Linked DNA regions of Homo sapiens: region 2 is linked to region 1. Evidence: fine-mapped expression QTL. A gene starts in region 1. The other region holds a variant in brackets. All regions are shown on one strand. Distances are between the middles of the regions.

Region 1 (9,162 bases):
TGAGCCCTAGGCTGGACAGCCCCTCCCCAGCCCCCCAGTCTCCTGCCTGGGTGGGAGCTGACCTGAGGTTCATGGCCCTGGCGTAGCACGGCGGCGTGGAGCTGCAGCTGGTGCAGCTGGGCCCGCAGGGCCTGCTGGTTGCCCCGCACATCCCGCAGCTCCTGGGCCAGGCGCTCCGTCTCCTCCTGGATGCGCAGCAGGTCCCGGGGTGGGGGTGCCGGCAGCCTCCCCTTTGGCGGGGGCAGGACCAGCCCAGCCCGCCGCACCTCCTCCTGCAGGAAGGCTGGGCGCAGAGGAACGGGAGTGGGGTGCAGTTGAGGTTGTCTCAACAGTTGAGGGCCCCACCTGCTGCCCCAAACTCCATCGGCCACCAGCTGCTGGATTCACCAGGTGGAGGTGGCCAGAAAATCCCGGCCAAACTTTCATCCAGAAGCTGTGCTCCCCTCCCTGAGCTCAGGTCTGGGCTCACTCTCCCTCCCCAGTCCCTTGGCCACCACTCAGAAGAGGGCCTGAGGTCTCCCCACAGGCCGGCCCTTGCGCTGCAGGGCTTGGGACCGGAGCTGGCGTGAGTCCTGTGTCTGCCTGATCATTGAAAAGCTGTAAACTGCACCAGCAAACACAAAACCCTGCCTGCCCCATGCCCCTGCCTTGGTGCCCCCACAGGCTCCTCCTGAGAGGGGTTGCCCAGGGCAGGGGTCCCTTTTGCCTGCTCCTTAGGGGTACCCTACCCTAGATCCTGGGCCCCACCCACCCCAGCCCAGCTGTAGAGGAGAAAGCTGTCTGTGCCTCTTCCCTGCTTAGAAACCCCTGTGGCTTCCTGGCGCCCACAGGACGAAGTCCTGGGCTCTTATGCTGTATTCGAGGCCTCCCCAGCCAGCCCTGCCCTAGGCCCTCTGCTCAGCCCACACAAGGCAGCCACCTTCGCAAGCACACTTCACAGATCCCAGCTGCTCTGTCTTGGCCCTGCAGGGCCCTGCATATACCTCCCTTCTCTGCCTTCCACCTGGCAAACCCAGACTCTTCCTTTCAGATCAAACTTGGCCCATGCCTCCTCCAGGAAGCCTGCCTGGAATGTAGGCCTGGGACCAACTCACTGAAGGTCTTCTCCAGCTCCTCACAGCGCCGAACATCAACCACAAAGCGTCTCTGGAAGGCGCTCACCGAGGCGTTGAGCTGTGGGTGCCACACGGAGGGGTGAGTGTCCCGGGAAGGGGGTCAGGGAGCTCCTCACCCTAGAGCCCAGGCCTGACTCTCCCCAGGCCTTAGCTGCCTCCTCCAGAAAGGTGTGGAGTGCCCTGGGAGCCACAAGACGCAGATCAGAGCACAGACCAGACCCCATGCCCCAGGAGGGTATGGGGAGGAGCCAGCTCAGGGGCCTCAGCTGCGGGCTTCCCATGAGCAGTGCCCATGGCAGGGGCCGCTGGGGTTCAAATGGGGCCAGGGCCCTATGGCGGAGGGGGGGCAGTCCCCATCCTGGACCGGCCTCCGGGCTAACCTTGGCAGTAGCCCCCTTCCCACGCCTGCCCACCCAACTCACGTCTCTGAACTCCACGAGGCCCAGCTCGCCCAGCCGACTCACGCAGGTGTAGGCAGCCGCTGTGGGCAGAAAGAGCTGGACCAGGGCCACCTCCTCGCTCCGGAACATGGAGCCCATGGTCCTGTGGGTGGACACGGATGGGGGCCAGTCAGGGGCAGACCACAGACAGTTCCCAACCACGGGCACCTGTGCACCTTCACTCACTGAATCCTGGAAGCTGCTGTTACCACCCCCATCTGACAGAGGTGGAAACTGAGGCCTGGGCAGGCTTGATGCGGTGCTGAGGTCACGCAGAAAGTAAGCAGTGGGACTGGGAGACCCCGAAGCCCACCCTCAGGCCGACCTCAAGCTCTCTCCTGGCTTGCTCTGCCCATGGGGACCCCCGCCCCTACCTCCAGCGTCTCCCAGTGACACCGGCTCCACCCCCACCTTCACTCTGGCCTCCCTCCTCTCGGGCTGCCGTCACCCTAGACAGGACCCCACTGGCCCAGGCACTTAGGCCCAGGGCTGCCCCGGGGGTGGCTGGAGCCCTCGCTGCTCCCTGTGGAGCTGCATGTGCTGAGTGGTAGGAGCGGGCATCTCCACCGGGTACCCTGGGGCTAGCCAGGGAGCACTGCTGTGGGGGGGCTGTCCCCTGAGGCCCGGGCCGCCCGGCAGCAGCCGCAGCCTTCCAGGTGTTGAAACCAACAAAAGTGAAACTACAGAATGGCGGGGAAGGGCCCGGGGCCTTGCTCAAGGCCGATGTGGGGTGGGGGCAGGTGCCAGGCCACCTCCAACCCGCCCTGGATGCTGGGGCCCCTCCAGCTCCAAAGCCACTGCTCTCAGGGCCCAGGGCCCCTCTGTGGGAATCAGTTGCTTAGCTCGAAAATTAGGGGGAGGGGACAGGCCTGGTCAGGGCCCCGCCTGCCCAGCCAGTCACTTCCTCCCCTGGGTCTGGTTTACTTAACTCTAAACAGGGAAACGCAGCCCCAGCCCCAGCCTGGGAAAGGAGAGAAGGAGGGAACGAGGGAACACTGAGCAGATGGCCCAAGGCTGCAGGTGGGCAGGGCAGGGGGCAGCGGGGCTGGGTTCCATCCCTAAGGACCAGGCCCGGCCACAGGGCAGAGGGACTTGGAGCCCAGGCTGAGATTGGGTGTGTGACCTTGGGCAAGTCTCTCACCCTCTCTGTGCCTCTACTTCCTCTTTGGGTGAATGGGACGTGGCACCCCTGACAGAGACAGGATCTAGGGAGGTGACAAAAATAACCAGAGCCTCAACTGAATCCCTTCATCCACACGACCTCACACTAATCCCTGGGGGGAGAAACCCTTGGGGAGGGGGTACGGTGCTTTTGTTTCATACAGGACTCCACTGACACTTGGAGAGGTAAAGTCCAATGTTATGTGCCCAGCACAAAGGGTGAGCTCAGAGGAGGGTTGTGTCTGACCTGGCTCCCTTTGGGGCTGTGCTGGCCAAATAAGGAGGTGTGGGGAATCAGCTCTGGGGATCTGGGGAGGGGTCACCCCTGGCTCAGGGCCATCAGGGCTCCCACAGCCACTATGCCGAGGGCTCGAGGGCCGGGCTCCTTCCAGCACTTCCCAGGGGGTGGGGGAACAACCTGTAATGGGCGGGGGGAAAGGTGTGGGGACGTGATCAGCCCCCGTGCCTGGCATGTGAGGCTCCACTGGCTCACCCCCTACCCCTGTCCCCCTTGGTCCCCGCTCTAGCCAGGGTCACCCAGCCACTTTTATGGTGTAAATGAATACGCCTCCATCCTGCGGCCCTGGGGTCCAGGCTCCAGCCCACTCCTCACCCTGTGCCCCTTTCCTGGCCCCTCCAGGAACCCAGCAGGTCTCTCTGCACCTCTGCCCTCCCCTCCAGATGATGGGAAGGCAGTAGGAGAGGGTCTGGCGCCCCCTCCATTCCAAATGGGGTGGGCTCTGGAGTCAAATGACCCAGCTGGTCTCCAGCTCTGACACTTCCTAGTTGTGTGGTCTCAGCTTCCCCATCTGTAGAATGGGTCCCTCCCTCCAAGGAAGCAGCAGCGGGGAAAGCTCCGCGCACACCAGGCCCGGGAACGCTGGGCTGTGTTGGTAAACACCCCATCCTTCTCCTCCTCCCTTGGGGATCCTCCGTGGCCCCCCGCAAGGCCTGACACCCTGCGGGGTGGCGGGCTGAGCTGCATTCACGGAGCCAACTGGGTGGGGCGCCAGGATCTCCTCCCCGGGGCAGGGGGAAGAGGGTGGGCAGGAAATTCTGGGGCTCCGCAGACCCCGGCAGGGGCACTCACCCCGGGTGTGCTGCGCGCCGCGCCTCCGCTGCTGGCTGCCCCGCTCCGCGCACGCCGGGCGGGACTCAGAACTGCACTCCCGCCAGCCCGGGACTAGGCGCCGCTCACTCCTTTCCGGGCAGGCGGGACGACGGGGAGGGGCCAGGGACGCCCCGCCCCCGGCCCAAGGCTCCACTGGAGTCCAGGAAGTCTGGGAGAGGTTGAGCCCAGGCTGTGGCCTGGCGGACGGGTCCTGAGGCGCTTAATCCCGGAGAGGAGGCCTGGAGAAAGGAGCGGATAACAGACCACTGCCAACCGCGCGCGTCTATGCTGGCCCCGATGCAGGGGCAGCTCCGCTCAGGCCCAGCTCAGGATAGGAGATGAGACCCTGCTCTCCTCTCACTTCGAGGCTTGTGCGCCTCTGGCTGATGGGACCCCAACATTCGCAGGCTCATGGGCTTGGGGTCCCCAGGATGCTCCCCCACCTCCGGGACCCCTCCCTTGGGCGGCAGTGAAACCCGCCGGTGCTTACACCTTCCTGCTCTTGACCACCCTGGAGAGGCCCCGCTCTGGCCCTTGGGTGGGTGGCTGCCCCACTCTGGGCCTGCTTCACTGGCAGCAGGACACAGGGCCAGGCCATGCTGCCTTGTTCTGCCCAGCGCCCCGCACCCAGCAGGCCCTGGGAGATACCCTGGGGCCAGAGGCCAGCTGTCAGCTCCACCTGCAGCTGCAGCCGCGGGGGGTAGAGGGGGGTGTCACTGTGACCTTGCTCCAGGTCAGCACCATGGGCGTCATCAGGTCCTAGTGCCTGGAAGCTGGGACTCACGACCGTCCAGCTGCCTGCACTTTGGACAGGCCTGGGGCATTCCCACTGGAGGCCAGGGGCCCTTCAGCTCTGGTGATCCCTAAGCCCCACACAGCGAGCACAGGCCTGTGGGGCTGCGGCAGGGGTGGACAAGTGGAGCCCCAGAGCCGGGCCTGGAAACTGAGTCACAGCCAAGCTCAGCTGTGGTTCCTCAGAAAATTGGGGGACTTGTGGTTGGGCGCCATAGGCCTGTTCTGACAGGGTCGGGGCCTGATACAACCAGACAGCCTGAGTGGGGTCTCAGCAGTAAGTGCCTGGGAGACCACGGTAAGGGAAAGAACCCAGCGGTGAGCTGGAAAGACTGACCCGCTTGGAATAGAAGTATTCAGTGCACAGCTACAGGCTCCATGCCACGCTCTGACGGCGGTTACGTCTGGGAAAAGCTAAACCGGCGGTGCTTCAGGAGTCCTGCGCCTGCCTTGTTTTTGGAAAGAACACCTGTTTTCATCAGTGGCCAAGATGAGCTGCGGGCCAGACCTGTGGACACTTCCCGGGCTCCAGGCTTCCCCTCGCCTCCTGCAGTTACTTCTCACCCCAGTGCCACAGGCTGTGGGGCCCAAGCGGGAGCCTGGCCACTTTGGCATTAGATGGCAATGCCTGGTCTAGGAAGGAGGCCCAGGTGTTAGACCTGAGAAAAGCTCCCTGGGAATGGGCTGGGAGAGGCTGGTGTTTTTGCTGCAGGCCTTCTCAGAGCCTTGAATGTCTACCATGCAGTACCTGCCAGCAGGCACACAGCAGCTGGAGCATTTCCAACACTCACTGGGCCAGGAAACTTGTTCTTTCGAAGAAGTAGCTTTTTACAAAGTAGTGCTTTGTAAAAAGCACTTTTGGAAATGATGGTAGATGGGGGGGGTCAAGGTCTCTGAACTGAGTTTTATTATGGGATGTGCCCTGCATGGCCCTGAGCAAGCCCTTTCACCTCTCGGAGCTGGTTTCCTCACTGCAAATGAAGTGAAATCCTTCCACAGTACTTAGCACAAGTTCAGGGGGGCTGCTTTTGGCCATTATATGGGCAAGGGGCTTGTGTGTGGCCCTAGGGAAACCCCACCGTGTCGCTGGGCCAGCAAAGCAGGAAGTGGTGAGCAGTGGCCGGGCCAGCACCCTGGCGTAGGGAACACAGGAAAGAGGATGTGGCTGGACGCAGGCCAGCTCAGGGCCAGCAGGGCCTGTGTCACCCTCGTGTGACTGTCACCCCAAGCAGGCTTCCTCCTACCCCCAGCAAGGATGCCCCGGCCTGAGTTTCTGCCACTTGCTGTTCTTCAGCCTGAGGTCTTGGGAGGCTCCAAGTCCTAAGCGTCTTACAAGTGGATGGCTCTTGGGAGACAGGAGGCCCAGGCCCCAGCCAGGACACCCGGGAGAGTGGGAACGGCAGGTCTGTGGTGACCTCTGGCATCGCTGGGCCTTGGGGAAGACGCCCAGGAAGAGGCAGGGTGACAGGGATGCTGCGGCCTGTGGTCTAGCCATGAGAGCCTGGTGGGGCCCTGGAGTCTACAGGAAGGCAGGGCTGGGGCAGCAGGACTCCAGAGAGCATAAAGACTAGGTGGCGACCTAGTCCAGTTGGAGGCACCACAGGCCTCAGGCAGGCCGGGAACGGCCCCACCCTGGACCACCAGAGTCAAGACAAGAGGCCGTGGGGTCGGAGTGGTTTTATTGGGCAGCAGGGGCTGCGGGCCGGTGGGGCGTCACCGATACAAGTAGTCAGCCTGGATGTTGGCGGCGATCTCGGCCTCCCACTTGTCCCCGTTGTTGAGCAACTTCTCCTTGTTGTACAGCAGCTCCTCATGGGTCTCCGTGGAGAACTCAAAGTTGGGGCCCTGCAGGTTGAGGTGCAGGGACGGTGGTTAGGCCCTGCTGAGGAGCCTCAGGCCCCCTCCCACCCGGGGGCCTCACGTGCCTCGACGATGGCATCCACGGGACAGGCCTCCTGGCAGAAGCCGCAGTAGATGCACTTGGTCATGTCGATGTCATAGCGGGTGGTCCGGCGGCTGCCATCAGCTCTTGGCTCAGCCTCGATGGTGATGGCCTGCGGGAGGGGCCACCAGACACTGCCACGCTGCCCTGTCACATCCCAGCCCCCAGGGCCCCTGTCACTGCTCATCCCCACCCCTGGGGTCTGCCAGAAGCCCTCTCCCCTCAAAGGCCTCCTGGACTCCGGCTAAGAGGCCGCCCTGCACCTCTGGTGCTCGCGCCTGTCTCCTCAGCACGTGCCCTGCTGGCGTCCCTGCCTTGCTGGTTTTTTTTTTTTTTTTTTTTTTTTTGAGATAGAGTCTCGCTCTGTCGCCAGGCTGGAGTGCAGCAGCACAATCTCGGCTCACTGCAACCTCGGCCTTCCCGGTTCAAGTGATTCTCCTGCCTCAGCCCCCTGAGTAGCTGGGACTACAAGTGTGCATCACCACGCCCAGCTAATTTTTGTATTTTTTAGTAGAGATGGGGTTTCACCATGTAGACCAGGATGGTCTCGATCTCTTGACCTTGTGATCCGCTTACCTTGGACTCCCAAAGTGCTGGGATTACAAGCGTGAGCCACCGTGCCCGGCCTGCCTTGCCTGTTTGTCAGCTGCTGGCGTCATCTGCCAAGAACCCCCTCTCACGAGGGGGCTGTTCACCGCTTTGTTCAGTGTAGCACCCGCTGCCCTAAGGGTCTCACCCTGCGGTGAGTGCTGAGTTACAGTCCCGCCTCGCCTCACCAAGCTTTCCAGATATTTTGAGTTTTACAAATTGAAGGTTTGGGGCAACCCTGCATAAAGCAAGCTCACTGATGTCATTTTACCAACCATGTGCTTGCTTCTTATCTCTGGGTCAGCACTTTTTAGGAATAAAGTTTTTGTTGTTGTTTTTGTTTTTTGAGACAGAGTCTTGCCCTGTCACCCAGGCTGGAGTACAGTGGTGCAGCTCATAGCTCACTGCAGCCTCAACCTCCCAGGCTCAAGCGATCCTCCCACCTCAACCTCCCAAGTAACTGGGCCTACAGGGGCTAATTTTTTGTATTTTTTGTTGTTGTTGTAGAGTCGGGGTTTTGCCATGTTGCCCAGGCTGGTCTCAAACTCCTGGGCTCAAGTAATCCCCTCACCTTGACCTCCCAAAGCACTTGGACTACAGGTGTGAGCCACTGTGCCTGGCCCCTAAAGTATTTTTAATTAAGGTATATACATTGTGTTTTAGACACTTCGCAGCCTACAGTACAGTGTAAATCCTTTTTTTTTTTTTGAGACGAAGTCTTGCTCTGTGGCCCAGGATGGAGTATGGTGGTGCAATCATAGTTCACTGCAACCTCCGCCTCCCAGGTTCAAGCAATTCTCCTGCCTCAGCCTCTTGAGTAGCTGGGACTACAGGTGTGCAACCCCACACCCGGCTAATTTTTGTATTTTTACTAGAGACGGGGTTTCAACATGTTGGCCAGGCTGGTCTTGAATTCCTGACCTTGTGATCCGCCCACCTTGGCCTCCCAAAGTGCTGGGATTACAGGCGTGAGCCACCGCAACCGGCCCTAATTTTTTTTTTTTTTTTCAATTTTGGCTCACTGCAACCCCCACCTCCCGGTTCAAGTGATTATCGTGCCTCAGCCTAGCAAGTAGCTGAGATTACAGGGACCTGCCAACGTGCCCGGCTAAGTTTTGTTATTTTTAGTAGAGACGGGGTTTCACTATGTTGGCCAGGCTGGTCTCGAACTCTTGACCTCAAGTGATCCGCCCACCTCGGCTTCTCAAAGTGCTGGAATTACAGGCATGAGCCACTGTGCCCGGTCTAAATCTAACTTTTAAATGCACTGGAAAACCAAAACAGCTGTGTGACTCAGTTTACCCCGATGGTCTGGAGCCGAACCTGCAACATCGCCAAGAATGCCTACACTGTTGGGTGCAATCCTGTGCCTTAAATCTACTTCTCTCCATTTGATGGATGAGAAAAACAAGGTTCCGAGAGGTTGAGGGGCTCCCCAAAGCTACACAGCAAGTGGGGGCACAGCCCAAACTCAAGGGCACGTCCTAACTCTCAGTTCCTGGGTAGCCCGCTGGGGGAGGGGCTGGCTGGGAAAACCTTCAAATGTGCTTGGCAAGGACTCTCATATGCCCCCATCCCAGAAATGTAGTGTCCACAACTCACAGTGGGACCTGTGGCTGGCAGGCTCATCCTTTAGTGCTTATAAAGATGGAGACAATAACCTCGACCTCCTCGAGGGGTTGTGGAGATTACAGGAGAGGCTGTGAGTCACACACATGGCACAGCACCGGGTCTGTCTGTGGACAGCACTCACTGTCTGGAAGCCAAGGTTGTGACCATCGTGACTGCTGTTTGGGGACACTCCTATGCACTCTCAGTCCGTGGCTGGAGTAGAGACATCAGGGCCGCAGCTCATGGCCTGGAGGACCTGGGAGTGCTCCAGAGGACAAACTAGGATCTGGACAGGAGCCACCCGAGTCACAGAACACTGGGAGGGGTTGCTGTGCACACAGAAAGTAGCGGCGGCGGCTGCCGGGGCTCCTGCCAGGCACACACAGGGGTCTGACCAGAGCT
Region 2 (15,665 bases), 160 kb before region 1:
CCCCATCTCTACTAAAAATACAAAAATTAGCCTGGCGTGGCAGCAGGTGCCTATAATCCCAGCTACTCAGGAGGCTGAGGCAGGAGAAATTGCTGGAATCTGGGAGGTGGAGGTTACAGTGAGCTGAGATCGCACCACTGCCTCCAGCCTAGGCAACATGTGAGACTCTGTGTCAAAAAAAAAAAAAAAAAAAAAAAACCGGAAATTTATTCTCTCACGGTTTTCGAGGCCAGAAGTTCAACATCAGTTTCACTGGGCCAAAGTCAAGGCGTTGGCAGGGCTGTGGAGGGAAGCTGCTCTTTGCTTCTTCCAGCCTCTGGTGGGCTGCAGCATTCCCTCACCTGTGGCCACATCACTCCAGTCTGCTTCACCTTCTGTACTTTGTGAGGTGTCAAATCTCCCTCTGCCTCTTATAAAGTCATTTGAGTGGCATTTAAGGCTTACCCAGATAATCTAGGATAATCTCTTTTATCTCAAAATTTTTTATAACATCTTCAAAGACCATTTTCCTTATAAGGTAGCATTCACAGGCTCCAGAGATTAGGAGCCGATGTCTTTGGGGGCCGTTTTCCACCATACTACAGTCTGCTTTAGAGCTGTTAGCTCAACAAGTTTAGTCTTTTTCAAAACTTAGTGATGGTGTCTGTGGCCATCGTTTTATTCTGAAAGGGCAGTGGGTGAAGCATTCTACCTTGGTGGTAGGTAAACTGCTCAGCTTCAGACGCTATTCTCTTGGTGGCCTGAGTGAGGGCATTACCACCTGAGGGTACTTGGGAAAGCTGTTGAATTGGGTGAAGCAAAATGCATCCAAGCTTGACCCTATGAAAGCTAGAGAAGGAAAGTAGGAATGATAATATCATGGACATTTGTAATTATTTTAGGAGTATAGAGACGTATTCTTTGCTATGGAGTTGATGGTTCTAGATACCTGATTACCATTTGAATTAGCGTGACAGCTCTAATTTTAAAGTAAAGGCTCTGCCTTAGGTAGAAGCATAATTGTGAATTCAGGGAAATGAAAACCCTGAGGCCTTTCTCTTTTCATAATACTAACACCCCGTTGAACTACTCTGACAAGTCACCTAGCTTCTCAGGTGAGACAACAATGTTTATAGGAGCAAGTTTTAAGGTTACAGGTATGAACGTGAATTCGTGGTAGTTTTCTAACAAATTAGCAACTGAGAAATTGCCCTGTCAAGCAGTGTTAATGGTGTTATGATGGAATATTGGTCACAAATGCTTCTGATAGCTTTGCAGGGCTTCTTTTATTGGCCTCATCGCTGGGATTGATACCATAGGATTCCGTGGAGCCTTAGTTATTGCAATATTGATTGCAGACGGCTTTGGAATAGCCATTGATAAAGACCGATTTGGAATTCTTTGATGTCAAGTCCTTTTGTGATTTCACATTTAGGAGAAAACTAAAAACCGATTCTGCTTATGTGTAGCAGTTGGTTTGAGAATAGAAAGGGAAGGTGATATGAATGGACCTATGTCTGGTCTTGTGCTGGATTCTAATGATATGAAAGTGTATGGGGCCGGGTGCGGTGCCTCACGCCTGTAATCCCAGCACTTTGGGAGGCCGAGGCAGGCAGATCACGAGGTCAGGAGTTCGAGACCAGCCTGACCAACATGGTGAAACCTCGTCTCTCCTAAAAATACAAAAATTAGCTGGGTGTGATGGCACACACCTGTAATCCCAGCTACTCAGGAGGCTGAGGCAGGAGAATCCCTGGAACCCAGGAGGCGGAGGTTGCAGTGAGCTGAGATCGTGCCACTGCACTACAGCCTGGGTGACAGAGCAAGACTCCATCTAAAAAGAAAAAGTTTAGCATAGAATTACCATATGACCCGGCAATTCTACTTCTGGGTATATCGTCAAAAGAATTAAAGCGGGTACTCAAACAGGTATTTTGTACACCCACGTTCACAGCAGGATTATTCGGCCAAAACATGGAAATAAAGCCAGGTGCAGTGGCTTACGCCTGTAATCCCAGTACTTTGGGAGGCCGAGGTGGGCAAATCACGAGGTCAAGAGTTCAAGACCAGCCCAACCAACATGGTGAAACCCCGTGTCTACTAAAAATACAAAAATTAGCCGGGCATAGTGGTGCGCGCCTGTAATCCCAGCTACTCAGGAGGCTGAGGCAGGAGAATCGCTTGAACCCGGGAGGCAGGGGTTGCAGTGAGCTGAGATTGAGCCACTGCACTCCAGCCTGGGCAACAGAGTGAGAGTTTGTCTCAAAAAAAAAAAAAAAAAAAAGTGTGTCTTAGCTAGTAGGGAAGGCAGGTGTTACCAGATAATTACACAGAGTAGTGAGTATGGTTGTAATAAGCACCATGCTGAGAAACGTTAAGGGTTAAAATGTATAACAAGGAAATCTATATAGCTGGAGAAGTGGGGTTGGGCAGGGACTGAGGAGCAGTGTGGCGGCACCCCAAGTGCAAAGGCCCTGTGGTGGGAAGCTGCCAAGCTGTTTCCCTTTCCTTTGTGTAAGTATCTTTAATATTTTGTTACAAAAGTCACAGATGTTTATTTTGAAAAGTTGAACATGTAGCAGGTAAATATTGCTTGTGATGTCATTCTCCATTGTAATCTCACTCACTGTTAACCAGTGGTGTACTGGATTGTTTTCTTACCAAATTATAACTAAATCACTTGAAAAATGTTTTCTTTGCCTTTCTAAATAAAGATTTATGAAAGTCCTCTAACAGGCTAGAACCTGCTTTTTATTATTTCTTTGAGACAGAGTCTTGCTCTATCACCTAGGCTAGAGTGCAGTGGTGCAATCTCCTGGACTCAAGCCATCCTCCCACCTCAGCCTCCTGAGTACCTGGGACTACAAGCACGCACCACCACACCCGACTAATTTTTTTTTTTTTTTTTTTTTGGTAGAGACTGGGGTCTGACCATGTTGCCCAGGCTGGTCTTGAACTCCTGGGCTCAAGGAATCCACCTGCTTCGGCCTCCCTAAGTGTTGGGATTACAGGCGTGAGCCACCACACCCAGCCAGAACCTACTTTTTAAAAATGTGTATTGACTTTTCTTTTTCAACCACTTGGGGATTGTTTCCCTGCCACTGGATAATTTCTCTAAGATAAACTGTTTGCAGACAAGTTCAGCATGTCAACTGGCTAGAGGGTTCTCGGTAATGTCACAGGAATTACGTTAACATTCTTTCTAGTCATTCAGAATCAGTGTTTTAACTTTTTTGACAGATTTTTTTTTTAATCTTAGTTTGTTTTTAGGATATTAAGCAAAAAATGCCTGTGTTTAAGTAAAAATGGATTGGAATCAGAGTTCTCAAATTGGACACAATTTCTCAAAAGTCACTCAACAATTTATAATCTCATAAAGAGCCTGGAAAGAGAAGGGCATTGACATTTGTTGAGGGGCCATCACTGGCATAGAACAGGCATGGTTATGTGAACGTAGCCCATTTTCTATGAATCAATGCTGCTTTCTTTTGAAATGTGTTAAAGTATTAAGGTTTTCAGTTTTTTTCTGATTATAAGTAAATAGGTTCACTGTAAACGTTTGGGGAAAAAATACTTTTGAAAGTTATCCTTCCCCCCAGCAACGGTAGCACTGGTGATTTGGAATGCATTGTGGTGGTGCTGGTGGTGGTGGGTGTCGCGCTTCTCACCTTAGTGGCATCGTGTTATGATTAGGAGTTTCCGCTTTAAATACAACTGGAAATCATTCTTGAAATCTTTTCCCCTTTAAATACATTTCTTATTTTAGCAGTTTTCCAGTATGTTTTATCTTGATCATAAATTGTCCCCTCACCCCCCACCTCCTTATTTATGTTTGGTACCAGAATCTGTAGTAAGTGCTTCTTTTCCCATGTGTTGATCCAGTGAAACCACATAAGGTGACTCTTCCTGTTGATTTCAGTGCTGGGTAAATCCCTTGGGGAAGTGATGCTGCCCATCTTGGAGCAGAATCCCAATTCCATTTTCTCAGAGCCTGATTGCATCATTTCTGTGAATACTCACGAAAGTAGAAGGCACAAAGCCTTGCACAGTAGTCCTCAGGAATTCCACTTCGTTTTCCTACTCAGATCATCTGTATTACTCCCATCCAGAGATTTAACCAATCTATTAGTTTAAAAAAATTTTTTTAACACAGATCCTATAAGCGCTCTGAAGGCTTGCCTTCTCAAATTAACTAACCTATTCCCATCACCTCCCACTCCATAATTTTAACTTACATTTGTCTTTTCTGGCCTGCGAGTCAGTCTCTCTCTCTCTCGTTCCTGATATTGCCCTCTGCCATCTGTTTCTTAAAGCAAAGCCCCGTCTTCCTCACAAGTGCGTGTTTTAAGACATTGTGTCCATTTAGAAGTTCTCTGTTGTTTCTGAGCAAGGCTCACAGATCAGCAATAGCCCATCCTTTCCACGAGTTTAGACTCATAAAATAAAAGTATTTGCTTACTGGGCACCTATAGTCCTTGCCTGAGTTGGTAACTCCCTCCACAGAGTGGTCCCTGTCATGCCTGGCTCTGCTTCTCACTTGTTGCTCCTTTTGTGATCCTGTGCTGCTTCTCCTCCTCTTGACCTATACATGTTAAAGTGCCCCCGACACCCAGTCCTTGGACTTCATTGATCTGCACTGAGTCCTAGATTTCATCTGATTCCATGGCTTGAAATGCCATTAATACTTTGATTTTATTTGAAGATAAAAATACCAGATTTTTATCTTCAGCTTGGAGCTGGACTCCAGACCCTGGTATCCAGCTGCCAACTCCAGTTGGATCTGTAGTGGGCATCTCAAAAGTGACTAAAACCAAAAAAGACCCCCAAAAAGGAAGAAAAAATGACCAAAACCAAATTCCCACACCGCAGTCCTTGCGGAAGCCAATCTTCCTATAGTCTTTGTCACATCCCTAAATATTAATTCCATTCTTCATTTGCAGGTATTTTTGAGTCCTCTTTCTCCTACACCTGCATTCAATCTGTCAGCAGTTCCCGACTATCAGCGGAACCTTCAGAAAAGATCTCGAAGCCAACCACTTCTTGCCACCTCTGCTGCTGCAGCCACTAGTTCTCCTCTGGCTAGCAGTAGTCAGTTAGTAAATAGACTACTACTACTAATAACGTCTCCCTGCATTCTCTTGTCCTAGAAATTATTAGTAGCTTCATTAGAACTGCTTTTTTAAAGTACCATGTAGCAAGCTGCCAGCATGGTCCTTTAAAACTGTGGGTTGGATCGTGTCACTCCTCTGCTTTCCCTCTCACTGGGAGTAAAGGCCCAAGTCTCAGCAGTGGCTTTGAAGCCCTTCTTCCCTGTGGCAGCCTCTCTGACCTCATCCTCCCACTCTTCCTCCATATTTGCCCCAGCCACGCCAGCCTCTGGGCCTTGTGTTTGCCCTTCCCTTTGTCTACTGCATGCTTCTTGCCTGATGCCTGGCTGTCCCTTCACATCCCTTGCTGTCTTAGAAAACAGCCACTATCACCCTCCTTCTCCACCTGAAACACTCCCTGCCACCATAAATGGCTTATTCCCCCCAAAAGGTGCCGACATTCATTCGTTAATTTATTATTTCCTAGTGCTTTTTTCCATTAGAATATAAGCACAGATGAGGGCAGAAGCCTTATTTTGTTCCATGCTGTATTCTCAGTGCCTGCAACAGTGTCTGGAATATAGTGGATGTCTAATTTTCCTGACATTTTTATATTGGGAAATCAGAACAGGATTTGTAACTAAAAAAAAAACAACGCAATTACTTTATTACTTTTGCACCAAGCTAATACACCATTTAAGAAGTGGTCAGTAATGGCCGGGCGTGGTGGCTCACGCCTGTAATCCCAGCACTATGGGAGGCCAAGGCGGGCAGATCACAAGGTCAGGAGATTGAGACCAGCCTGGCTAACACGGTGAAACCCCATCTTTACTAGAAATACAAAAAATCAGCCGGGTGTGATGGCGTGCATCTGCAGTTCCAGCTACTCAGGAGGTTGAGGCAGGAGAATGGCTTGAACCCGGGAAGCGGAGGTTGCAGTGAGCCAAGATCGTGCCACTGCACTCCAGCCTGGGCAACAGAGCGAGACTCCGTCTCAAAAAAAAAAGAAGCAGTCAGTACTTTCTTGAAATGTTTTTCCTAACAATTTGGGACAAAATTGAGGCAATTTTTACTTCTAAATGTAGTCAGTGGCTAATTAGCTCAGAGTGTGTCAGCCAAACCGTGACCATGGGGACATTTCCACGTGAGCCAGCTATGTCCCATGGGAGTCTGCACCCTTGTGTGTTTGTTGGGAGGGGGCACCTCTGTGGTAGCTATGAAGCATTTAGGCTTTGCTAGCCGCCCTGTCTTGTCTTGTCTTGTCTTGTCTTGTCTTGTCTTGTCTTGTCTTGTCTTGTCTTGTCTTTTTTCCTTTCCTTTCCTTCATCTTCTTTCCTCTTCTTTTCTCTTCTTTTCTTTTCACAGTCTTGCTGTGTCGCCCAGGCTGGATGGAGTGCAGTGGCACAATCTTGGCTCAGTGCAACCTCTGCCTCCTGGGTTGAAGCTATTCTCCTGCCTCAGCCTCCCAAGTAGCTGGGATTACAGGCATGTGACACCACGCCTGGCTAATTTTTGTATTTTTAGCAGGGATGGGGTTTCACCTTGTTGTCCAGGCTGGTCTCGAACTCCTGACCTCAGGTGATCTGCCCGCCTTGGCCTCCCAAAGTGCTGGGATGTTTTCAACCCCTATTTGTCTATACTCTACTACAGTATCGACTTGTGTTAGCTTTTTAAAATCCCATCGCTACCTTTAATGTGTAAACGTGTGGTCTTAGAGGAAAGATCATGCCAGCAAGAACAGATTCCACACTTAGGAGGGCAGAACAAATGATGACCTGATCATTAGTACAATATATATTCATTTTGAGCTGAAAATTTTTTTAAATAGCCCCCAAATTATTGATAGCTTCATTAGAATTGTTTTTACAAATGTTTCATTTATCAGTTTAAGAAAGATCTTTTGATAGCTTTTATCATATGGACCTGTGGAGAATCTCTCTCTGCTAGGCTACATCCAGACATGTGCAGTGCATTCATACTAGTGAAATTTAGCCATGTTCTGTGATTGACAGAAGTACCTGTTAGATTAAATTACCTTGAGTTCAAATAATATCAGTTGATCACAATATAAATGAGATCTGAGGGCACAGATTTTTTCCAGTTTGGATCATTAACCCACATTTAATTTAAATTATGTGCACATTAGAGTGGATCTCAGTCTGTGTTCCATGAATTGAACCAAAGTTTGCTATTACTAAAGTGATTTGTTGGTGAATTTTCCTAATTCTCAGAAAAATGTTTGGTTGATATTATAATTTCCTTAATTTTTTATTCCATAATTTTTCTTAAAATTTTGTATCTATTCTTTGCCCTAACATGATAAAATGAATAAGTAAATTAGAGCGATTGCTCTTACACTGGAGCTTGCATCACCTGGAGGTCTTACTACAACACAGATTGCTGGGCCTCATCCCCAAATTTTCTGCTTTCTCTCAAGTAGACATCTTGGTTGGGACTTAAAGACTTTCCATGGCCGGGCGTGGTGGCTCACGCCTGTAATTCCAGCACTTTGGGAGGC[C/T]GAGACAGGCAGATCATGAGGTCAGGAGATCGAGACTATCCTGGCCAACATGGTGAAACCCCGTGTCTACTAAAATAGCAAAAAAAAATTAGCCAGGTGTGGTGGTGCGCACCTGTAGTCCTAGCTACTCGGGAGGCTGAGTCAGGAGAATCGCTTGAACCCAGGAAGCAGAGGTTGTAGTGAGCCGAGTTTGGGCCACTGCACTCTAACTTGGGGACAGTGCGAGACTCCGTCTCAAAAAAAGAAAAAAAAAAAGACTCTCCATGGATAACCTTTCTATTCCATATATTTTATTTCTATTTCATATAATTATGCTTTATGTCTTATTTTTGAGGTATATTAGGACTCCTGAGAAGCCTAAAAGTACATTGTTCCATGATTATCCATAAGTTGTGTGTTAAACACAGGCATTCTACAGATGATTTCCTAAAGGACCAAAAGCACTTTTCCTGGTCCTGGTTCTTTTTCTCTGGAGGGTCAAGGACTAGGGAGTAAACCAGAAAGTATAATGGCAAGCAGTAGGGAAGTTAGTGGTGGTAGCAGCTGTGATTCCTGCCTTGTTTCTGTCTGTGCAGGAGCTTCTCTCACCCCCTTACACACCATGGACATTTTGAGAAAGGAGAGGATTTGAAGAGGTCAGGAAGTATCTTTAATTTACAGTTTTTTTTAATGCAGAAATATAGTTTCTATGATGCAGTTTAGAATACAACCTATTTATTTCATCAGTTGAGTGCCTCTAGGATGTACTGTGTGCTATACTAGATACACAAGGGCCAGAGATAAGAAAAATAGATTCTCAACCTTAGGAACTCTCAATTAAGGAAGCAGACACTTAAACAATATAGTCACATAAGGGCTTTCACTTAAGTTTTATAGCATAAGTATATAACTAGATTTGGCAGTGAATGTCAAGGAACACTTCCTAGAGGATGTGAACACTGAACTGGGACTTAAGGAATTAGGCAAAGAGATGGTGTTATAACATTCCAGGCAGACAGAGGAGAAAGGCATGGTGCATTGCCCTTCCCCACACCCCCAGGAAAAAAATGCATTTTATTTTATTTTATTTTAGACAGGGTCTTGCTCTGTCACTCAGGCTGGAGTCCAGTGGTGCAGTCTTGGCTCACTTCACCCTCCATCTCCTGGGCTCAAGTGATCCTCCTGCTTCAGCCTCCTGAGTAGCTGGGATTACAGGCGCATACCACCACACCTAGCTAATTTTTGTATTTTTGGTAGAGACGGGGTTTCACCATGTTGGCGAGGCTGGTCTCAAACTCCTGGATTCAAGTGATCTGCCCACCTGGGCCTCCCAAAGTGTTGGGATTACAGGCATGAGCCACCACACCTGGCCAAAAATTCATTTTATTTAATGACCAAGTATACACACATTTACACATATATAACTAAAACAAAACTTACTATGTGGGATGCATTGTGAAATATTCTGCTCTGTGTTCTTTCATTTAAAAAAAATTACTGGTCACAACATAGTAAAAAAAATGTTGCAAACCATTAATATGTTACAACCCATAATTGCCCTAGAGCACTATGAATGCTGAGCTATAATTTTAGGGAAAGTTACAGTCTTGCTCCTTAGAATTAGCCCATGGTAGTATTCTGTGTATTCAGAGGAAAATAACATAATCTTGTTACCATGTATGTGCCCTGGACATGGTAGGTGCTTTCTGTGTGCTTAAATCACCTACCTTCCCAGGCCCTGGAGATAAGAGTGTGACTTGCAACTATGTAACAGGACCCTGGATCTATCTGTGTTGTACCTTTTATAGAAACAACTTTTTTAGGTACATTATTTCATGTGATCCTCACAACAGCCCTGTGAGGTGGATGGGGAAAATATGATCAGCTTCACTTTCTGGATAATGGAAGTTAAGGTTCAGAGAGGTTAAGTGACTTTGTTGGTTACCAACTGCCTAGTAAGAGACAGAGGTGGGATAGGAGAGGGCTATTTTCTGTAAACCACATAGCTTCTGAGAGTATAATCTAACTTGAAATATAAAATACATTTATATAAATTTACCACTTCATCATTTTCTTTTTTTTCACTCTGTCACCCAGGCTGCAGTGTAATGGCATGGTCATGGCTCACTGTGTCCGCAATTTCCTGGGCTGCAGCCATCCTCCCACTTCAGCCTCCTGAGTGTAACTACAGGTGCATACCACCATCCTTGGCTAATTTTTTAATTTTTATTTTTAGTAGCAATGAGGTCTTGCCGTGTTGCCCAGGCTGGTCTCGAACTCCTGGCCTCAAGCAGTCCTCTTGCCTTGGTCTCCCAGAGGGCTAGGATTATAGGCATAAGCCACCACCTGGCCCATTTGCTTGTTGTTAATGCAGCTTTTTATAGGATACAACAAAAAACCTAATTCTAAATTTATCATGCCAAGTTTATGCATCTGTACCAATGAAAGCTTATAGCCACAGAACATCTGTTTTTCAGAAAGTGCTGTTTCTTTGGCTCTTGTCTTAAAGGAACATAAGTAATATGAAAGACCCTAGGGGTCAAGGAAATTGAAGAAAACTGAGGAAGGGATATAAAATGGAATGTAGTCACGGATTTTAGTCCCTTTAAGCTTTTACTTTTGTGAGATGGCTCAATGATGGAGAGCTTTAATGCAGATGAACCTTGAAGCTTTTAAAGATCTAAGTCTTGACGAGGTTATTGAAATTCAAATCTTCAATGCATTGTGATAGTAGGCTATAATTTTTGAACACTTGGCCGGGCACAATGGCTCATGCCTGTAATCGTAGCACTTTGGGAGGCCGAGGTGGGAGGATCGCTTGTGGCCAGGAGTTCAAGACTAGCCTGGCCAACATGGTGAAACTCTGTCTCTACTAAAAAATACAAAAATTAGGCGGGCATGGTGGTGCACACCTGTAATTCCAGCTACTTAGGAGGCTGAGGCATGAGAATAGCTTGAACCTGGGAGGTGGAGGTTGCAGTGAGCCAAGATCGTGGACACTGCACTCCAGCCTGGGTGAGGGAGCGATACTCTGTCTCAAAAAAAAAAAAAAAAAAACTTGGTACTTGATGCTCTCCCGAAGTGCTAGGATTTGAATGCCACAATTCATATTGTTTTATGTTTTTATCTATTACTGTTCCATGGGTTTCTTTAAATGAAGTCCATTTTAGAGTCCATAGGCAAAACTGCTGGGGATCCAAGATCCAAGGCTCCCAATGGACCACCCATTGCTCTTTTTCTCAAGCTTTCTTTGTACTTTATACCTCAAAAGTACACTGCTCTTACTGAGTGTGGTGGCTCATGCTGGTAATCCTAACACTTTGGGAGGCTGAGGTGGAGGATTGCTTGAGCCTAGGACTTTGAGGCCACAGTGAGCCATCATCACACCACTGCACTCCAACCTGGGTGACAGAGCAAGACCCTGTCTCTTAAAAAAAAAAAAAAAAGTATACTGCTGTTCAATTCTATGCCTTTTCTCCTAAGTGTAAGATATATGATCATTAATGAGAGGTTTTAATGTTAAATTTGGTAAAATTTAATAATTGAAAAATCCTTAGCTTATAACTGATGTAGAATAGATAGAAGACTGTTTAGTGAAACCTATGAGAAAAATCAAAAGGCACGTTAAAAGTTAAATACTATAATCGAATTTAAATAGTAAGGGAACCAGAAAAAAAATTCATGTTAGAAAACAATTGTAAAGTTGTCTTTAGCATTGATCAGATTTTTTTTTTTTGCCATTCCCCTAAGCATACTGCTCACATGCACATCTTACCCTCCAGTGAACTCACACAGATACTCCTGTAACATGAAAGAGACCTGAGATCAAGTAAAAATTCATGTTTTGTGTTTGTGTTGAGTATCATTAAAGGTATGTCCAGGCATGTATTTTTGTGAATACTTCGAAGTAATTTATCATTTGTACTTTTCTATGTGTTTGTGGAAAGGAAATTGACCTGCGTCTGGTGTAGTTGAGAATTTGTTGGGCAGCAGTGCTGGGTTCTACTCGTGAGACTGCTGCAGGTGGATCATGTGGTTTTAGGCATGTGGCCTCAGTTTCATTTGCAAATTGAAGGAGTTGCACTGATGATCTTAAGGCATCTTTGGCTCTGAAGTTCTGTATTTTTGCCCTTTATCGTAGGGCCTTTTTAGTCTGACTTGTACTAATGCATAATTCGATAATGAGGTGGTATCATGGACATCCTTTTTCTCATTCCATTAGTAGTGAGTGTGATGTATAATATCCTCATTTCCAAAGGTCATTATAAATTACAAGCATCCCCCACTATTCAGATCAATCGGTTCCCAAATTCAGATAGTAAGAGATACATTTACATTACCGAATACAGTAGCTTCTCAGTTTTGTTGCCATTGTGAAGGAATGATAAGGTAGACATTTCCAGATGGGCACTACTTTGATATCTGAATATTGGTTTCTTAAATATCTAGAACAGTGAATTGAAACTAACAACAACAAAGAGATATGAAGTCCTTTACTTTCCTTACTCTTGTCCCTCTGCTAAATTTTGTTTGTGGTGATGAGTAGCCAGCACAACAGTTAGGAGTCTCTTACTGTGATGGACAAAGCTTAGTATAGATGCCTTTTCCTAAGCTTGCCTTGGAACAAAGAGATAAATAACTTCCTTGTAGTTTACTCACCCAGTTCAGAGCATTACCAAAACATGTAGTTTGAGCAGATAGATGAGAAAGCTCTACTAGATATCAGTATAACAAGGAGCAAAGATGGTTCTTACTGTTTACTGAGAGAAATATTTGTTGAGCACCTGCTGTTTGTCAGTACTGTTCTAAACACAAGCAAGGAACAAGTCAGAATGAGTCCCTGCCTTCTGTAGTTTACATTCTGGCCAGTCTGGGGGCACTGTATTCCTGAGCAGGCATCATATGATTGGGGAGAGCCAAGATTGTCTTTAAAGAGTGGAGACATCAGTTATTAAAGTATAGTCATGCATTGCTTAATGACAGGGATACCACACATTCTGAGAAATGTGAGTTTAGGTGATTTTGTTATCGTGCAGATATCATAGAGTGCACTCATAGAGTGTGTCTCGGACACATTCTAGAAATGTGAGGTTAGGTGGTTTTGTTGTCATGCAGTTGTCATAGAGTGTACTTACACAAACCTAGGTAGTCTAGCCTACTACACACCTGGGCCATTGCTCCTAGGCCACTAACCTGTACAGCTTGTTACTGTACTGACTACTGTAGTCACTGGTAACACAATATTATTTGTTATCTAAACATATATAAACATAAAGATACAGTAAAAATACAGAATAAAAGATTTTAAAATGGTACACCTGTGAAGGGCACTTCCCATGAATGGAACTTGCAGGATTTGAAGTTGCTCTGGATGAGTCAGTGAGTGAGTGGTGAGTAATTGCGTAGACCTAGTACATGTATACTATTGTAGACTTTATTAACACCGTACACTTAGGCTACGCTAAATTTATTTTGAAATGTTTCTTCAATAATTAACCTTAGCTTGTAACTGTTTTACTTTATAAAGTTTTTTTTTCTAAAAACTTTTTGACTCTTTTATGGTAATACTTGGCTTAAAATACAAACACATATAGCTATACAAAAATACATTCTGGCCACATACAGTGGCTCACGCCTATAATCCCAGCACTTTCGGAGGCCAAGGCAGGTGGATCACTTGAGGTTGGGAGTTCGAGACCAGCCTAGCCAACATGGTAAAACCCTGTCTCTACTAAAAATACAAAAATTAGCTGGGTGTGGTGGTGCACGCCTGTAATCCCACCTACTCAGGAGACTGAGGCAGGAGAATCATTTGAACCTGGGAGGTGGAGGTTGCAATGAGAAGAGATGGCACCACTGCACTCTAGCCGGGGCGACAGAGCAAGGCCCTGTCTCAAATAAATGAATGTATATTCTTTCTTAGCCAGGCACAGTGGCTCATGCCTGTAATCCCAGCACTTTTGGAGGCCAAGGTGGAGGGATTGCTTGAGGCCAGGAGTTTGAGACCAGTCTGGGCAACATAGTGAGACCTCGTCTCTACACACACACACACACACACACACACACACACACAAAGTTTTAAAATTAACTGGATGTGGTGGCTCCTGCCTCTAGTCCCAGCTACTTGGGAGGCTGAGTGGGAGGATTGGTTGAGCCCTGGAATTTGAGGTTGCAGTGAGCCATAATCACACCACTGCACTCCAGCCTGGGCCATAGAGTGAGACTGTCTCAAAACACAGACAAAAAGACACAAAAATATATTATTATTTTCTTTTCTTTTTTGGAAGACAGGGTTGCTCTGTCACCCAGGCTGGAGTACAGTGTTGCAATCATAGCTTCACTGCAGGCTTGACCTCCCATCTCAGCCTCTCAAGTAGCTGGAACCACAGGCTCATGCCACTATGCCTGGCTCACTTTTTTATTTTCTGTAGAGGCAGGGTCTTGCCATGTTGCCCAGGCTGGTCTCAACTTCTGGGCTCAAGCAGTCCGCCTGCCATGGCCCCCCAAAGTGCTGGGATTACAGGCATGAGCCACTGTGCTCAGCTATATTCTTTTTAAAATATCTTTATTCTATAACCTTTTCCTACTTTTATTTTTTTAACTTTTTTATTAAAAACTGAGACACAGGTCACAAACATTAGCTTCAGCCCACACAGGGTCGGGATTATCCATATCACTGTCTTCTCCCTCTGCATCTTGTCCCACTGGAGCGTCTTCAGGGGCAGTAGCATGCATGGAGCTGTCATCTCCTGTGATAACAGTGCCTTCCTCTGGAATATCTCTTGAATAACCTGCCTGGGGCTGTTTTATAGTTAACTTAAAAAAAAGTAGAAGGAATATACTCTAAAATAACAGTAAAAAGTATAATATAGTAAATACTAGGCAATACGAATTTTATGAAGTGTATGTCCAGCTCTGTTATAATCTTATGGAACCACCGTTGTTTATGTGGTCTGTCATTGACCAAAACATCATTATACTGTGAATGACTGTCCTTTTAATATTATATATCTTTCTCAAGGGTCTGTTTAGCATGATCTTTCATGTATTTATCTCCCCATTTTGTTTTGTTTTTCATATTTTGTTTCTGTTAGGAGAGAACATTGAAAGTATTCTCTAAGCTATTTGAAGAGAGTGACTAAATGCACCTGGGTCAGGCTGTCTGTGGGTATGAAGTGGTTGGGAGAATCCAAGAACATGGTGGTGAATGGCAGGAGAAATGGAGGCAAGTTGTCTAATGACCATCAGCAGAATCAATCAAAATTACAGCACACGGGGAAGGACACCCTGAAGGCTGGCAAAAATGCAGTCGAGAGGAGGTCGAACAGATGTATGTACACACTTAAACCTTCAATGTTCTGATTGTGATATGGGGTAGTAATTCTTTCCAGTTTGTAATGTGTATTCTGTTTTCTTTTGTCTTAAATAATTTTTTGCATTTTCATAATTAACAATATAGTCTTTTTACTCTCAAAGTTGTGTCAATTTTTATTCTCATCAAACTATATAAAACTCAAGTTTAATGCTTCATATAATTATTTTAATCATGCTTTTCTGTCTGTTACTTTATATTTTGTAGAATTTACCTGAATGGTTGATATGTCTTACTAAATTTTTAAAATTTTAATTGAACTTCTTACAGGTTAACCTGTATTTTTTTAATAGATGTAAGTATAGGTATGTACTTCTTTGCTAATTTCCACAAATGTTTCATGGAATAATATGAATAATGACGCCAACTGTAATTTACATAAGTAGAATGAGGATAGATAGAACTGACTGCTTTAGGGCAGCCTCACAAATCATAGCAATTTATTCTATTTATACAGGGTAGACAGTTGTTCATCCTGACAGTGAAACACTGCTGATAAGTTACTTTATTTCCTCTATACCTCTTGATAGGAAAGAGGCTGCTTTTTGAGAGTTCAGGAAGTTGTAGATTTGGTGCGTATTTCATAGTTCCTCTAAAAGTAGTAAAATGACTGAGGACAAGTGTATACCTAACTAGGCAGCTATATGTCCAAACGTATGTCATGTTAAAGAGGACAGCTTTTCTTCTTTTTCTAACGTGAATCTAGCCACCTTTGAATATCCTTAATTCA

Alleles and levels. Alleles are on the strand shown, and positions count from the first base shown. SD is a standard deviation of normalised expression in the study named.
As copies of C replace T in region 2, the expression in ovary of the gene that starts at base 3,901 in region 1 goes up (moderate effect, 0.63 SD a copy in GTEx).

What was found. PIP is the estimated chance that this variant, and not a neighbour inherited with it, causes the effect.
Region 2: its variant is fine-mapped to the expression of TCIRG1 in ovary (GTEx, PIP 0.90).

Annotation. Positions count from the first base shown.
Region 1 is chr11:68,033,764-68,042,925 of GRCh38, reverse strand. TCIRG1 (T cell immune regulator 1, ATPase H+ transporting V0 subunit a3) reads right to left here and starts at 3,901. Exons shown (of 20, transcript NM_006019.4): 1 at 3,807-3,901; 2 at 1,538-1,658; 3 at 1,095-1,173; 4 at 63-283. The coding sequence starts at 1,654. NDUFS8 (NADH:ubiquinone oxidoreductase core subunit S8) reads right to left here. Exons shown (of 7, transcript NM_002496.4): 6 at 6,545-6,673; 7 at 6,282-6,464. The coding sequence ends at 6,333. It overlaps MIR4691 (microRNA 4691), which reads right to left and starts at 9,029; the gene lies at 8,945-9,029. RefSeq lists silencers at 1,900-2,029, 3,710-3,789, 3,850-4,029 and an enhancer at 3,921-4,542.
Region 2 is chr11:68,189,145-68,204,809 of GRCh38, reverse strand. It overlaps KMT5B (lysine methyltransferase 5B), which reads left to right. Exons shown (of 11, transcript NM_017635.5): 2 at 14,658-14,893. The coding sequence starts at 14,734. Among named protein-coding and RNA genes, the nearest start is that of KMT5B, 16 kb to the left of the region's middle. The variant C/T (reference allele first, on the strand shown) is at 7,585.